Linked DNA regions of Homo sapiens: region 2 is linked to region 1. The links come from fine-mapping of genetic effects on gene expression. A gene starts in region 1. The other region holds a variant in brackets. All regions are shown on one strand. Distances are from middle to middle.

Region 1 (8,000 bases):
TGCTGTGACATAAATTCCCAGCATGCCCAGCCCTGATTTCTGAGTTCATAAGTAATTCTAGTGAACCTTAGTAGGAATTCTGGGTAAGAAAATGAGGTTGCCATTGGTCTTGTTTGCATCACCAAGACCAGACATCCAGAAGAGCCCCTCACCTTGAAAAGCAGACAGATTTTAAATTAACCCCCTCCTTCCCACTCACCTTCATCTCCCTAAGAGTTTTGGCCATTTAATTCCACATTTTGAAAGGAATACATTGGTGAAATTTGGGAAGAGAATCTGTGCTATGCAATGTTTCATTAAAATCTTCAGTTTTTCAAGTCTCTCTAAAAATAATTTGTAGATCTATACTTGATGTATTAAGTCAGTTTTTTTTCACAGCGGGCCTGTGGCTCGCCTGCATCAGAATTGCCTGGGTGCGTGTTCAGAACAGGTTCCTGGATCTGAGCCCTTTTTAACTGAGGCCGACTCTTGGAGAGGGGCACCAGAATCTGCATTTGTAGTGTATACCACATCGTGGTTCAACTGAAATTGGAGAAATACTAACCTGAGATTTTGTTGAAGTTCACACACAGATCACAGCCCGCCCTCTGCAGGTGTCCCCTTTGGGCTCCTTTAGGAAGAGGGCTTCCATGAGAAGGTGACCCCATACCTTGCCCTCTTGGTCAATGGGATTGGGGCTCCACCTGGCTTGGAGATGGCCCTTTTAACCCTCACAGGAAGGGCCAGGGGAGGAAAAAAATTGCAAGAAAGCGACACCAAGAACGGAGCTGACTGAGGAACCAACTGGAGGGTCTTCACTCTCTCCTTCCCCAGTGTACAAAACCAGTTTTCTGCAACATTCAGGAGCCAAATGAGGAAAAAGAATCAAGAATCTGACTCACAGCCCATCTGATCTGTTCAAAGCTGTCTTTTCCACCTGCTGAAATTCATTAAATCACTGGAGGCATGCATAATGAATGGAGAATGAGTGAACTTCCAATGCAACTTGGATTCACAAACCCATTATCATAGCCAATATGCAGATTTTAAACAGCATTTCACATTTCATTTGACCATGTCTTCTTTTTCGCATCGCCTGCTGCAGAATTCCCTACTAGAATGTGAAACAACGAACAAACCACAGAACTTAGAGTGTGCTGGTTAGTCACATAACTTAGTAGCAGGATTGTGTATCCAGGCACAAAGGTGTCTTTGCTAATGTTCTCTTGCTACCTGCCCTGCTTCAAACGCTAAATGGTATGGGTCTTTCTTTGTTGCCAGCCATATTCTACAAATAAGACTTTTCAATATAGTTATGAGTAATATAATTTTATGTACATATAATGTTAGAATATTGTACAGAATCTTGGTTTCTACGATGCGCTTTTCTTGTTTCAAAAAGAGGAAAATGCTTGATTTTTGTTGATGATACTTTTGTTACTGTCCTTAATTTTCCATAGTTTGGTTTCTTAATTGTGCTCACTAAGCATCGATCTGTGCTGATGCCAAGCTATGGACTATGTACGCAAGACCGAGCAATAGACAGAGGTGCCTAGGGTCCAAACACACTGAACGCACGTGGACCGCCTGGATCAGGAGCCTCATCAGACCCTTCTCCATGCACATCCTTCCCAAACAGTCACAGATTCCATTGAAAGGAGCAGATTCTATCAGTTCTTCTGTGCAGACTTTAAGAGCTGAACGTTCTGGTTCTGGAAGCCATGTGACTGCGCAGAACAACCTAAGAAACCCTTTGTGTCCTGAGGGGTCGTTGACCTCTCCTTCCGGGTCGGAGCAGTCACTCTGAGGGCAAAGCGTGGTCCACTGTGTGTGATGTTTTCAGGATGCTAGGGTCAAAGAAAGAAACCAAGTGGTACATAAGCCCAGCTTTTCTGCTGGGCTAAGTGTAAGTGTGAGTAACATGGTCAAGCCCCTCTTTTTTGGGCTAATGTAAAGCCTTTCCTGCCTTGCATTAATGCTATCTCCCTGTGTACTGTTTCTCTTAAATGAGCAGATAGAAATCTGCAGTGTTGGCAGATAGGTGATGGAGAGGATGATAATTTTATCTTCTGGCCACAGAGCTGCAGCCCCAGTTGTCAGAGTCCTTAAATGAAACCCCCAAATCCATCCCTCCTTCCCTACCCCCACTGGAATATTCTAGAATAAGAGCACTGGATAAGTACACTTGAACACATTTTTCTAACCTTAGAAAATACCTACAAGGCCTGTTGTCTTGACCCATTACTCAATTGTCCCTGGCATATTATCTGATCTTCACGTTTCTTGGAAGCAGAATCATCAAGGCTTTCCTTTGTAACTGCCCTTTCCGTACACAGCAGGCATGAATAAATGCTGAGTAACAGACAAGTTACAGACAGGAGGGGAAAGAGGAGGAACCATACAACTGTTTTTGCAAAATGATGGCTGAGTCCAGATTATAGAGGTTGCCTTACCCTTAGAATGTTATTTAGACCAAGTTTAGCTTTTAGAGTCCAGGTCTGGTTAATTGCCAGGGTAGCAAAGAATCGCATGCACCAATGTAAACAGGAGTCAGAATGCATTATTAGTCAAAGATCGAATTTCACATTGTAGAGATGTATAGCTGTGATTAAGCTGCATATGTATGCTGGGAAACGGCTTGAGTGGATGGCTAATATAAAAGTTGTTGGCCATAATGCCACACCTCTCATCTGCTTGAAATATGGACCAGTATTCTAAAATATCAGCTACTGGGGTCTCATTCACTACAAGATAAATTCAAACTTCACAGAACTTTGCAGCAGTTCACCACCAGACGGGACTGTGTCTGCAAACTCTCTTGTCTTCACAGACGCCTAATAAAGCAAAACTCTGAATCTCATGTGGCCCAGATTTTTTTTCCCCCCATCCTGGGTTTGCAAACTGCATGATGGACACGTCAGTACTGATCTCCCTCTCTACCCCATCTCAGGTGGTGGAGAGAGAGTTTCAGTTTTTTCCAGGTGCTGTAAGTTTTCTTAAGTTATTCTAACAAGACTAGGCCCTTTGTTTGCTGGGAACCAAGGCCCCATCGATGGGCACAGAGCCCCTTTTCTCTGGAAGAAAGTGGTCTAGCCAGAGGGAGGGCAGGTAAGCAGAGTGACCACTGCCAATGCCACTGCACCCCAGTGTAAGTCATTAAAACATGCAGAAGGCCTGGCTGGGCTCTTGCCCCTGGGCATCCCAGCCGTCACGTGAAACTGGCTGTGTCCAGAGCCTACACCTGAGTCGCCCTCCACAGTTGGCTCTGAAAGCTTCCTGATGGCCCGAGGTATGTTCTAAATGGGGTGATAAAAGAGAGGTATAAATGGTGGTCGGCTCCACCAGCCTTCATTTGCAGTTCAATTTTCAGAAAAGTAGAGGTAGGGAAGGCCGGGAGGTGCAGCAAACAAGCGTGTCCTGGAAGTAGCGCAGCTTCAGCGTCATTTTCTGTAAAGGGAGCAGCCAGCACATGCTGGTTCATAGGGCGGACATCTTGGTGGGTTTCAATTCAATGAGAGGAAGTCTGGGTGTCCCTCCAAGAGTGATTAGAAAGAAGGATGACTCACCTTCCCCAGGTGGACAGCCACTCCTCTCTGCCTTCACCTGTCCCGGCCACCTGAAAATCTGCCCCTCCTAACAGGAGACAGGGAGGGAGGGGCTGCCAGGCCCAGGAAGCTCCTGTATTGGAGGCGCCAGGGCCCCCAGGCCTCGCCTCCTCCCGCCCACTGCCGGCCCCGCCCCCTGTTCCCGCCCACCCGCTTCCCCGGCCAGACCTGCAGACCCAGGCGCCGCAGTGTCTACACCCGCAAAAACGCCCGCTTTGACTTAGAGCCCTCCGCATATCCTTCCCCTGGCTGGGGCAGCCAAGGCGCGGAGGACAGCTCCGAGGCCAGATGTTTACTGCGCAGATGCCCGACTTTACACCGGGGTCCGGGCTGTGCCGGGCGCTGGGGGAAGCGCCCACCTTCCAGGTGGGACCGCGGGAAGGGTGGGGGAGGGGCAGGCTGGCGGTGGTGGGGCCTTTGTGCTCCACCGGGTGAGCGCACAAAGGCCTGGTGGAAGGCAGGGATCCTGGGCGGCCGGGCAGAGGCCAAGTGGGCACCGGATAGCGCCAGCCCCGCCCAGGTGAGCGCTGAGGTGGGATTGGAAGAGGGTGGCTAGGAGGGGCCCTACTTTCTACCCACTCCTAGCCCCCTTTCTCAGGACACCGCCTTTCTTCCCACCCTCCTCCCTGCCCACCTCCTCCAGGCAGGCTTATACCCCAGCTGATGCTTTTGGGCAACATATCCTGTCCCTGAGAGTTTAGAGGTCATCTGTTCGCACCCCCTTTCACTCTGGAACCCTGAAACCAGTTACCTAACCTCTCTGTGCCTTATTTTTCACATTTATAAAATGGGGGTTCCAACAGGAACTCATTCTTAGGGAAGCTGTGGGGATTAAAGGAGAATGCGGTTCTGCTGCAACCACATGGGGATAGCCAGTGTTCCCTGTCTGTTGCCTTTTTAAATTGGGGAATGGGTATAATATAGCATTTATATCATGGGGCTGTTGAGAGGATTAAACAAGCGTGGAAAGCTTTCAGAAAAGTAAGCAGGTGGTCAGTATGGGTGGGACATGGTCTCACAGCCAGGTCTGTCTGACTCCAGGCCCAGTGCTTCCTCCCAGGAGTCAGGTACGTGATGCCAGGGGTTAGAGTGGCCTAGACGCGGCACAGTCCTCACTGCTGTCAGCCTGGCGGGGGCTGAACTGTCTTAACAATCCCCATCATTGCTGACTAAGCCATGACTGTGGCCCTCTCCTCCACCCTGAATCCTCTTCTTCCAGCCTCAAAGGCATTTCTTTAAAGAGATGAACTGGCTCAGCAGGGCAGGACTTGGCAAGGCCTCAGCCCACTTGGGGGGAATGACCAGCGATACCCAAAGAGGGAAGGTGTCTTATTGCAGAAACAGCATCCACATAAACTGATGTTTCAGTGGAGCCCCCTGAAGCAGAGGGTGGCCTCTGCTTACCCTCCTTGGACTCCATGTCTGCCTTTTGGGACTTCCTGATTCCTTCAAGCCAGAATTTCTTCTCCCTTGTTTGTGTGTGTGTGTGTGTGTGTGTGTGTGTGTGTGTGTGCATGTGTGTGCCGGCGGGTGGGGGGAGGCTTCTGAGCATTGCAGGATGTTCAGTAGCATCCCATCCCCCACTTCTGACAGCCAAATATGCCTCTGGACATTGCCAGATGTTCCAGGGGTAATGGTGGGGGCTGGCAAAAATCACCACTGCAACCTGATTTCACCTGGATCAAGAAGGAGGTCTGGGGGTGTGCGGGCCTCATCTCTCTCCTCACCTGAGGCTCATGAACCTAACACAGGGGCTTCTGGGCTTGCTCAGAAGCTTTGCATTCCCAGCCTCTATCATGTTTCACAGCCATAGTATGAGTACAGTTCACAATTGTTGGATGGCTGGAGGTCGGATGGAGGGGAGAGGAGACCCTGGTAGGTGTGATCTACACACTGTTATCCAAGTTAACATAAAAGGTGATGGGCCCTTGGTAATAGGTCATTGGTTTGTGACTGAAGCCAGCTGTGTCTCTGGCTTTGGGTAAGGTGGTAGTGCTGCCTCTCAGCCCCAACTCCTGGCAGTCATTCTTCCACTCCCAAGAGCTTGTGCACACTCAATAGTAATTCCTTAAGGCAGTGACTTTTGATGAGACCGTTTCATTCCCTCTTCCCTCCACTAACAGAGAGCGAAATCATGGAGCCTTCCAAGACCTTCATGAGAAACCTGCCAATCACACCAGGCTATAGCGGTAAGTGTGGACGTACCCTGCAGCTGTGCCTGGCAGGGGAACCCGGGTCCTGGTCACTGTCCCTGCCTTGACCCACTGTCTGTGTCTGTGCAGCCAACTGGACCAGTCTAGGCGCTCTAGCTTCTCAGACATGCATTGAGAGCATTCCATCGCTGAAGATGGCTGATGGCCGGGTTCTGAGGGGCAGAACTTAGACCACACGTCCCAGAACATGGCCTGGTATGCAGAGGAAGCACTTAATGCCTGTTGAATGAATTTGGACCAGGATAGACACAATGTGATGAGGATAGACACAATGTGATGAGGATAGACACATGAATAAGTAGAGGCCCTGTTCTCCCCAAGTTGGTTTTCTCAAGTCCTCCACAAAGGTTATTCTTGTGCTCCCATCCTTTCCTGCATCCCCTAAAGGAAGGCTGGCCAACTGCCCTGGTCTACCTGGGACTGCCTTTGTCCTGGGACTGCCTGGGACTTTCCTTAACACTGAAAATCTTGCATTTGGGAAACTCCTCAGTCCTTGGCAAACCAGGACGATTGGTTGCCCTACCTAGAGGCTATTCCTCCTCAGGCTTCTGGGCTACTGAGAACTTACTAAGTCATATCCCTGTGGGTGACAAACCCAGTGGTCCCCACAGACCCTTGGCTCTCCCATACAGCCGTTCTCAGGAGGAATAGTACTTGGGTGATATTCCAGGGTTGCCCAACCTCACTCTGGTCCTAATGGCTGGTTGAGAATAGGCTTTGGGTTCTGACAAGCTGAGGTTCGAATCTCTGTTTGGTCACTGTCGATGAGACTGTAAGTAACTTGCCTCTCTGTGGTAAGTACAACATTCTATAAAATGGATGTATTTGTTTTCTAGGACCACTGCAACAAATTACCACAAACTATGTGGTTTAAAGTGATGGAAATGCATTCCCTCACAGTTCTGAGGCCAGACGTCTGAAATCGAGGTGCCCGCAGGGCCATGCTCTTTCTGAAGGCGCTAGGGAAGGATCCCACCTTTGCTTCTTCCAGCTTCTGGTGGCCCCAGTGTTCTTGGCTTGTGGCAGCATCTCTCCAGTCACTCTCTTCATCCTCACACGGCATTTCCCCCTTTGTCTCTGTGTCACAAGTCTCTCTCTTCTTTCCTCTATAAGGACATCAGTCATCAGATTTAGGACCCACCCTAAATCCGGGATGATCTCATTTTTAGGCCCTTAACTTAATTACATCTGAGAAGTCCCTATTTGTAGATAAATGCACATTCACAGGTACCAGGGGTTAGGACTTGCATATATCTATTTGGAGGATACAGTTCAACCCACTACATGGGATACCATAAGATTGTTGTGAGGATTAAAGGAGCCAGCATACATAACCTATTTTAAATGTCTTGGTCCTTAGCGAGACTCGATAAAGGTAGTTCGTATGCTTATGTCTGTGCATATATGCACTAATATAAAACCTAGGCAGACCAAAGTCGGCCCTGATGGCAGGGAAACCACTGTGGCAAAGCCCCTAGGGTCTTCATAATGTTAGGATATCTTTTAATCATCCAAGGGTTGGGGAGTCTGGGCGATGCATGGAAGGCTTCCAACACTGTCAAGATTAGTTTAGTAATTAGGTTCTTCCAGAGGGGGTTATTGTAGGGCTCTGGGGGTGAGGATTGCTACTTTCAACTCTGAAGCCAGGTTTTGTTTTCCTGGAGACCATGGCAAAAATGTTGGGTTTCCATAAGGAGAGAGATTTATTTATTTATTTTGCAGTTTGAAACTAAGTTCTTAACCAGTTTTCCTCATTTGTTCTTCAAAAAAAAAAAAAATGGTTTTATTGTGACAATATTATAGTACTTAGGATTCAGCCTCCAGTTTAAGTAAATAGTTGTGTTTTACCCATACTAATTGTAATGATTATATGTTACTTGGTGGGAAATGGTGAAAAATTGTGCTAGGGGTGGGTCTTGCAGATAATGAATTTACCTTTTTGTGTAACAGGGCTCTACTTTTAATAAGCCTGCAATTTCCTGATGGTCCGGCAAGAAAGATCCCAAATTGCATTTGGGAAGTGTCGAGGAAAATAAGCTTTCTCTTTAAAAAGATGAATAATTTCAATTACTCCTTAGACTATCATTTTGGCCCATTAAATGCTTTCCCCATTTTCCGTCAGGCTGACATCAGGGGCTTTGCTATTCAAAGAGTATTACTGTCATCGCCTTTGTTGAAATGGGCCTTCCCTCCCCAGCTCCAA
Region 2 (9,234 bases), 41 kb before region 1:
AGCCTCAGCCCCAGAGAAGCCTGATGTTTGGGAGCCCTTCACCCACCCTGAGACCCAGGTCCAAAACCTTCCCAAGCTTTCAGAGTCCACATTTGTAGGTTTCAGTGAACTCGTATCCTTATTGGTTTGTTCATTCATTTGCCAAATATGTGTGGAGCACCTACCATGTATGGGCCAGGTGCTCTGATGGACAGCGGAAGAAAAACATTGACCTGCCGTCCGGGAGCTTCCATGTAACTGGCACATTCAAATCACAATTATTTTATTATGGAAAGTTTTAAACATACAAAAGCAGAGCAAATATTATACTGAAGCCTCATGAATCTGTCACCAGTTTTAGTCATTATCAACTTGTGGCCAACCTTGTTTAATCCCTGCCCCTTCCCTCTCCTGCTATTCTGGTACAAATCCCAGAAATGCTATTGTTTTGTCTGTACATTTGAGAATGTATCCCTAGAGGACAAGGGCTCTTTTAAAAATTATGTAACTGTACTATTAATAATAATCCCTTAGCATTACCAATGTCTGGTCAGCATTTACGTTTCTAATTGGCTCATAAATGTAACATTTTTGGATTGTTTGAGTTAGGATCCACTAAAGGTCCATCCACTGCATTTACTGGAGTTGATGTGTGTTTTAAGTCTCTTCTAAGCTGTCGCAGTTGGTCTCCGGGGCAGTCAGGATAGCCTGGGAAATTATCAGTGCAAATTGTCAGCCAGCCTCAGACCTACTGGATGAGAAACTCTGGGGGTGAGACCATTAATCTGTGTTTTAACAAGCCTCGGGGGTTCTGATGCACAGCAGAGCTGAGACCTTCTAGTCCATAGGTTTGCCCTCCTTTCCTGTAGATTTTCCTTGTGATTATCTTTAGGAGAAACCTGTCTCTCTTGTCGAGTTTCCCCCATCTGGGTTTTCCAGTTGATCACCAGGAACTGATGCACAAGTTCTTCTCTCATCTGCACCGGGGGAGCTGAGAAGGCTCTTCTCTCTTAAAAGAGGAGGCTGACTTTTAGAGGTGGAGGTCCCTGAAGGGTGATGCAGAATTTGCCTGCTGTAGAAGCAGGATGCACGCTAGGCAGGGGAACAGCATGTGCAGTGCCCAGAGGCTGAATCAAGCACAGATGTTCCAAGGCCTGTGGATAGGTTTGGTATGGCCAGGGATGTGGGGCAGTAGAGAGAGAAGAGACTGCAGAGGAAGGTGGGGTGGACTTAGAAGAGCCTGGGGTCAGTAGTGTGCTGGACTTTATTGCATGGGAAATGGGCATCAGGGGAAGACCCTGACAAGGTTGAGTTAGGTGAGCAGACCTTGATTTTGACCAGATGGCTTTCTCTGTATCTGCAGTCATGGCTTTAACTGCAGGGTGAGTGTGTCTGGGGGAGGGGGCAGGCCCAGGACAGGGAGACTGAAAGTTCAGGAGGATCTGGACCAAGGCTGTAGTGGTGACTTAGCAGAGGAGCCAGCGAATGCAAGAGATGCTAATTAGAAGGAGTGATAGGGCTTGGGGGTAGAATGAGAAAGGAGGAAGTCTAGGGACTCTTCCATCTGGGAGCAGTGGTGGTTTTACTGGCAAAAGGGGTATCTGAGGAGAGAGGCAGACCTGGGTGGTTTGAGAGCTGATCCCACATTGTTGGAGGTCACTCAGCATAGCATGTATGTTACTAATATCCAACTCAAGAGAGTTGATGCCTCAGTTGGGAAAGAACTCCCTGACACTCTTAGTCTGTGGATAGTCACTGAGTCCACTTTTGGGTACACATAAAAAGTCCATCCATTCATCCATCCATCCACTCATCTATCCATCCATCCATCTATCCACTTACCAACCCATCCATCCGTCCATCCATCCACTCACCCACCCACCCACCTATCCATCCATCCACCCACCATCCACCCACCCATCCATCCATCCATCCATCTATCCATCCATCCATCCATCCAACATTGAGTGCTTGTGACATGTCAAGAGCTAAGGAATTAGAGATGAAGTAAGACTTGGCCCTACCCCAACAAGCAGAGTCCATGGGAGAGAAGCCAGGAGGACAGAAACATCTTAGTACCATGTGTAGGGTGATCTGGTAGAGCCTCTTCAAATGCTGGATGCTGGAGGGAAGGGCTGTAAGGTTGAGGAGTGTAATTCATGAAAATTAGTAGTAAAACTGTTGGTCAAGCAAGTGTGTCTTCACCTCTCCCAGCAGTTGCCTGGACATGTATAGACACAATTGGAGGCCCACGGACCAATGCATGAACCTGCAGTTAGGAGAGAGACTGTGAACCACCCCTGTTGACAGTTTGGGATTGCAGGGACTCGGGGCTTTTCCTGTCTTGGGAAACTCAGCTGCCCCAGTTCGCTCTCCCTGCGACATTTCATCTCTTGGACTATTCAGGGAGGTAGGAGGGGTAACAAGAAGTTGCTACCCCGTGTCAGGATGGGCCTGATGCTGCCCCCAACTTGGCCTGGGCTTGATGCTACTGTCTCTGCCATGGTAAATGCTCATTTCCATAATTATTATTTAGCATTTGCAGAGTGGTTATTTTACACTCAGTGTTCTTTGTAGTGAGAGGGTCTCCTGGTTCATGCCAATAAAATTTCCATTTACTCTGGACATCCACCATAGTGATTAAAAACAGCCCATAAATTATTTACTGAAATGGAAGTTCAGCTTACAGTAATAATGCATTAGTTCAGCTAGCCATGAAGCCTGTTATAGGGTAATAAAAGATTTTTTATTTTCCTTCTGAAAAGATGTTTGCCAGTAACCTACATATGACCTTGAGCTGATCAGTTTTCAAAGATGACACTGCAGGCAGGCATATAAGGAGAGAAAGAGAGAGAGGTTTTTTTTTTTTAAATAGCCTGATTTTAGGCAATCGTTAGCAAAGGCCTGACATCTGACAGCCAGCAGGGAAAAAGAAATGCAAATATATATATATATATATATATATATATATATATTGCATTTTTTAAAATCATAAGTACCAGACCTTAAAACTCCTTTTCAAATTGGGCATTTATTTGATGGATACGTAAATCTGAAAGCTAACAAGAAGGACTGTTTAGAGAAACTAGAATGTCACTATTGTTGAGACCACCTGTCACATTTCCTCGGAGCCTAGAACCTTGTAGAATAAAGTCAGCCCTATGGTTCTGTCTTCATCTTTAAACATGTATTTATGGAGCAGAATTGATTTTATGTATCTCAGAGAGTCTGTGATTCTGCTCACGGCCATTTGCTGACTAATGACTTTGGCAGAGGAGAACAGCAAGCAAGTTCATGAATTATGGCTCTCTTTGAGGTTCTCTTATCAAGACTATTTTTTATTTTAAGAACATCTGCTTTGATTAAAGCCATTAGAGCTGGGACCACATAAAATTGTGTCTGAATTTTATATGTGTTGCATTTTACAGCAGGAACCCAGATGAAGCCTGCATTTTAATCCTTAAACCAATAAGACCAGCGATGAGGATTAACCTAACAAACTAAACTAGTTCCTCCTCAATTGCCTGGTTTGGGGTTGTAAGAAATCCTGGGGCAGGAGACTTGTTGGCCAGGATTTGATACTTTTATTTATTTGTCCTCTACATTGCTGCAAAAATATTTTCATTTCTTTATATACCCCTCTTTCTGGCAAAAATTGTTTAATGTGTTGGGGTGGGGTGTTCCAGGATTGTGAGTTAATCTATAACCACCCTCATCACCTTATTTTTATGTTCACTAAAGTTAAAAAAGATTTTCTGCTCACTAGCTCTGCAAGACTGAAGTGATGTTAAATTATCTAACACGTAGCTAATAGCAAAGGAGACATGATGATTAATTTTTGTTTGTTCCCCAGAAAGCTCTTCTGTTTGTTTCCCAGAAAGGTCTGTTCCCCAGAAAGGTCTCTTCCCCTTCCGCTTAACCATAGTTTTGTGGCTAGTAGTTTGCATTCTTGAAAGGGTCAGTGTTGGCCGGGCACAGTGGCTCACGCCTGTAATCCCAGCAGTTTGGGAGGCCGAGGCCAGCGGATCACAAGGTCAGGAGATCGAGACCATCCTGGCTAACACAGTGAAATCCTGTCTCTACTAAAAATAAAAAAATTTAAAAATTTAAAAAAAAAAAACATTAGCTGGGCGCGTTGGCAGGCGCCTGTAGTCCCAGCTACTCGGGAGGCTGAGGCAGGAGAATGTCGTGAACCTGGGAGGTGGAGCTTGCAGTGAGCCGAGATCGCACCACTGCACTCAGCCTGGGCGACAGAGCGAGACTCAGTCTCGAAAAAAAAAAAAAAGAAAAAAAAAGAAAGAGTCAGTGTTTCTCTGATTCCTTGATGTGAAAACATTGACTCTCTCTGTATTATGGGATTTCAGGGTAACTTAGTGCTTGAAGTGGAAGATGCTTTGAGTAGGCCTTTATTTAATCTACTTGGAACGGTGCTGTAGGTATTTCTTAAAACTCCTAGTTCCTTTAGCTCTGTCCTTGATCACATTTCTTGATAGAGCATTTTCTTTAACCTGTCTTTTAGCAATCTTCCTTCTCTACCTCCACAGAAGGGTCTGGATTTTCTTTTCTTCAGCTTCCTTTCTTTCTCTCAAGCCTCGACTATAGGAAACTCTATTTGTGTCGAGGTGTTGACTTAGCCTTTCTCTTCTGTTCCTAGTGTGTCCAAGTCAACCTGTGGGGACTGAACTGGACTATCCCCTGGGTGAGA[G/A]TAGTCCCGAGGGAGATGTTGTTGTATTAGCTTTATAGAAGCAGTGGAGGCAGGGCCACACTTAATGGCATTTGGGATTCCTTACTATAGATAATGGCCTCTGTATAATTGACAGCCAGGACACACAGCCTACACTTGGTATGTATAGGGCATTCCATACATCAATTCTCTCCTGTTGTCCATTAGCTTATATCTGTCAGATATTCATAGATTAATAGATAATATTCTGTATTTTATTTCTGATCATTTACCTACTGAATGAAAGATCTCAAGCCTTGTTGGGACACATCAGAATTAAACTCCCCATTCTCCTCAGGGGGTGAGATAGGCTTTTCCGTTTTTTTTCCCCTGAGAATTTTTGAGCATCATTTTGACATCCTAAGTAGTGAAGTAGAGAAACAGTAGCATGTCTCTACTGGCTGTGTATATTTCTGTGCTGTACTGATGGACATTCGCTGGTGAATTATCTTTGATTTGGAATATACAGATATATAGATGTGGGTGTGCACCATGTGCAGGTATCTCTGAAAATGTTACCCCTCCATACCTTCTGTGCAGATCAGTTTTCAATCATTGCACAGTGTAGCTGAATTTTAACTTCTGATGGAAAAAGTCCATGAAGTTCGGCTGCCTCTAGGCCTGGCTGAGTGATCAGCAAGTCAAATGATTTGTTTAATATTGGCCCAGTTGCCGTGGGGTTGAAGGGAGGTACAGCAGAACCAAAAAATCCTTGCTTCTTGCCCTCAAAGTATCCTAGAGTCCCCTGGGGACCCAAGACATGTGTTCCATGTGTGGCTCAACCTTGGCTATTTTGCAAATCAGTGAGAAGACCCAGGGCTCTGAGAAGGGCTGAGTGATGGGATAATTAGGACCAAGCAGCAGCGGGGTGGATAGTTTGTCTGCAGATAATAGCTTGTTTGCTAATTGCCAACACCAGATTTTCTGGGCAATTAGACATTTGGTTTCTTTCAGGACCGTCTGTGCAAATGTGGACACATGGCGCAGGCCTTCCAGGTAGCAGGTGGAGAGGGTGGCTTCTGGTGCTGATGGCATTTCTCCGCAGGCTGCCCAAGGGCTGTGGGCAGGGAGGACCTCTCACCAACAGGTGGAAGGACCATCTGGCTGGAACCCCTAGTGGGGAGGCAGAGTTCCCCCTGCATTCATGGAAGGGGTTCCCTTGTGCTGGGAGATTAGCAAAGATGGTGGAGATCAGCAGGCTGGTCTAGGAACTGAGCTGACTTCTCCATTCTCTTTTCAAGAGCAATTAGCGCCCACGGCTAATAGCAATTCTGTTAGTCGTGGGTGCTAATAGAAATCAGAAATAGCTTCCCCTCCCAGATGAGCAAGTTGATTTAAACTTTTCAATAAAGTTTTTTTAAAAAGTATGTATAACATAAAATTTGCCACTTAAACCATTTTAAGTGTATGATTCAGTGGCATGAATTATATTCACAATGTTGTGCAACCATCACCACTATCTATTTCCAAAATTTTTCACTACCCCAAAGAGAAATTCTGTACTCATTAAGCAAGAACTCTCCATTTCTCCCTTCCTCTTACCCCTGGTCACCTCTCATCTACTTTCTGTCTCTGTGAATTTGCCTATTCTGGAGATTTCCTATAAGTGGAATGATACAATATTTGTCCTTTTGCATCCATGTATTTTACTTAGCATATTTTCTAGGTTCACCTATGTTATAGCATGTATAAGAATGTTCTTCCTTTTTACAATGAAATACTATTCTGTTGTATGGATATACCACATTTGGTTTATCCCTTCATCTTTTTTTTTTTTTTTTTTGAGATGGAGTCTTGCTCTGTCACCAGGCTGGAGTGCAGTGGCACAATCTCGGCTCACTGCACCCTCCGCCTCCTGGGTTCAAATGATTCTCCTGTCTCAGCCTCCCGAGTAGCTGGGACTACAGGCATGTGCCACCACGCCTGGCTAATTTTTGTATTTTTAAGTAGAGATGGAGTTTCACCATGTTGGCAAGGCTGGTCTTCAGCTCCTGACCTCAAGTGATCTGCCCACCTTGGCCTCCCAAAGTGCTGGGATTATAGGCGTGAGCCACCGCGCCCAGCCTATCCCTTCATCTGTTGTTGGACACTGGAAGTGTTTCCACCTTTCTGTTATTGTGAATAATGCTGCATGAACATTTGCATATAAGTATCTCCTTGAGTCCCTGTTTTCAGTTTTTTGGGTAGATACCTAGGAGTGGAATTGCTGGTCATATGGTAATTCTGTACTTGACTTTTTGAGGAACTGCCAAACTCTTTTCCACAGCAGTTGTCCCGTTTTATATTCCCACTAGCAATGCTCAAGGATTCCAATTTCTTCACATCCTTGACACACTTGTTATTTTCCTTTCTTAAAAAACTGTAGCCATCCTAGTCAGTGTGAAGCCATATCTCACTGGTTTTGATTAGCATTTCTCTACAGACTAATGATGTTGAACATCTTTTCATATACTTGTTGATATATCTTTTGTGTATTTTCTTTGGAGAAATGTCTATTCAAGTCCTTTACCCAGCGAGTTGGATTTTTGCCTCTGTAATTACTGGACTGTGCCTCTCCCTCCCCAAGATAGGAACTGAGCCTCATCAGGCGGAGAGAGGCTGTGAGCTTGCAGAGAGTGGGAGGTGGCTGTGCAGATTTGAGGCTTCACATTCCCTCTTGCATGATTCATTTCATTCCTACAGCCTGTTTGGTGCCCACTGTAATGATGCTGCCTGAGTCCTCATCAAGTAGAAAAAGTAATCAGCAAGAGCCTGGGATTAACCCAAAGTGATTTAGCAGAAGAGGCAGATGGAACCATTCCACCTGCTCCCCTAGAAGCAGACAGGCTTTTCTCAGACACCTCAAACCTTCTGGTTTCCTTGACCACAAGTATTGCCTTGGAAAATTACCCACTTCTTCCTAGCAGGTTTCAGTACGTATGTACTAAACGGAGCAGGATGTGCAGAGCACCGAGGGTGGTGCTGGGTCGTTGCACGTGCCCAGTGCCCGGCCTTCGTCTCTGCGGTGGGAGCACGCAGTCTTCACTCAGCTTCTCTGTGCCCTGCCAGCCCTAGGCAGCAGGCAGGGAGAGCACTGTAGCGCGTTCCAATGCCGGCCAGGGAGAGTGTTTTTTCTCCCGGGGGGCCCATTCCTGGGGCAGAGCCACTGGCTCTGGGAAGACTTCAGAAAAATGCTAGGCCTGAATGATGGTGAGTGCAGGGGAACAGACAAAATGGTGTTCCTGCTGCTTAGCTGCTGGCCCTTCGCCTGTTTGACCTCGTGGCTGTTGGGTCCCATCTGCAGGGGCTAGAAATGCTGATCTGTCTGCCTTTTTGCTGTGGTTTTTATGATTGAAAAAGGTCCCAAACCTTCAGTATCACTGAAGAGAGATGAATTCACATGCCCTGGCAGGGGGAGGGAGGAGCTGGTGCATCTGCTAGGCAAGGACGCTCTTTCTGAAGCTTCATCACATCCTACATTCCTAGGATAGGGGTTGCTCTTCCTTGGGGGAGGTACCCCTCACCCCTTTGGGAACCCGAGGGCTGTAGATGCTCTTCCAAGAAAATGCACACAAAAATTTGACATAATTTCAGGTGGCTACAGGTCCTGCTAGTCCATCATGGAGCCTGGCCTCTGGCTCCACAGACAACACAGCCAGGAGCGGAGCTTTCGGGGACTGACCAGCATCTCCAACTAAGCTGGGTTGAGTGGCACAGAGTGAGAGGCCTGGTGGCGACTGGGAGGAAAGGAGCATCTCATTTGGTCGAATTCTAAATACCAAATGCAAAGAGGTGCTGGAACGGATGTTCCTGCCTTCCTGGCTGGGGCTGGGCCTTGCCCATTTCGTGAGCTGGCTTTGCAGAGGCCGCAGTTCCTGGAGGAGTTAAGGCCATGCAGCCCTCATTTCTTCCCCCTGGGTCAGTCCATGCCACTTCTAAGGAGGCGGCTTTGTTTTTCCTTTCAGAAACGGCTCCCACATCTGCATATTCATCTCCAGCCCGGAGTCTTGGGGACACAGGAATAACGCCTCTGTCCCCCTCCCATATTGTGGTAAGAAGTGTGTGTGTGTGTGTGTGTGTGTGTGTGTGTGTGTGTGCGCGCATGGGTGCGCATGAGCACACGTGCGTACTGACTTCCTTTGCATTCTGGGTCTGATCTCACAGTTCAGGCTGCTGGACAGCCCCTCACATTCACTGGTTGGAGATTAAGTTGACCTGGTCCTGGCCAAAGGAGCCCTGCCAAGCCCCTTCCCCCACTCCGAGCCTGGGAAGGCTTTCTGTGCTGTGGCTAGTGCTTCTGGAGCAGGGGCCTGGGTGGGTCACAGAAGAAGGTGAGATGGGAGCAGCCCTTTAAAGATTCAGGGTCAGAGCCTGTGAGGTGTCCTCTTGAGAGGAAGCCGCTGACTCTGGGCTAGTGAATCGGTGAATACATGGACTCTGTTGACTGCGGTTGTCTGCAGTATCGAAAAGACCCTAGCAGTATAATCGCTTCTGGAACAGCTTGCCTGGTAGAGAAGCCCTGAGCAGGGCTTCATATGCATTGAGTGGGGCTA

What was found. PIP is the estimated chance that this variant, and not a neighbour inherited with it, causes the effect.
Region 2: its variant is fine-mapped to the expression of SPMIP5 in tibial nerve (GTEx, PIP 0.96).

What each region holds. Positions count from the first base shown.
Region 1 is chr10:116,666,031-116,674,030 of GRCh38, reverse strand. It overlaps SPMIP5 (sperm microtubule inner protein 5), which reads left to right and starts at 4,065. Exons shown (of 6, transcript NM_001350931.2): 1 at 4,065-4,104; 2 at 5,708-5,773. The coding sequence starts at 5,719. HSPA12A (heat shock protein family A (Hsp70) member 12A) reads left to right here. Exons shown (of 12, transcript NM_025015.3): 12 at 1-2,839. It overlaps HSPA12A-AS1 (HSPA12A antisense RNA 1), which reads right to left and starts at 3,976. Exons shown (of 3, transcript NR_187551.1): 1 at 3,753-3,976; 2 at 3,546-3,637; 3 at 1,293-1,826.
Region 2 is chr10:116,706,698-116,715,931 of GRCh38, reverse strand. HSPA12A (heat shock protein family A (Hsp70) member 12A) reads left to right here. Exons shown (of 12, transcript NM_025015.3): 2 at 8,647-8,732. Among named protein-coding and RNA genes, the nearest start is that of HSPA12A, 31 kb to the left of the region's middle. The variant G/A (reference allele first, on the strand shown) is at 4,685.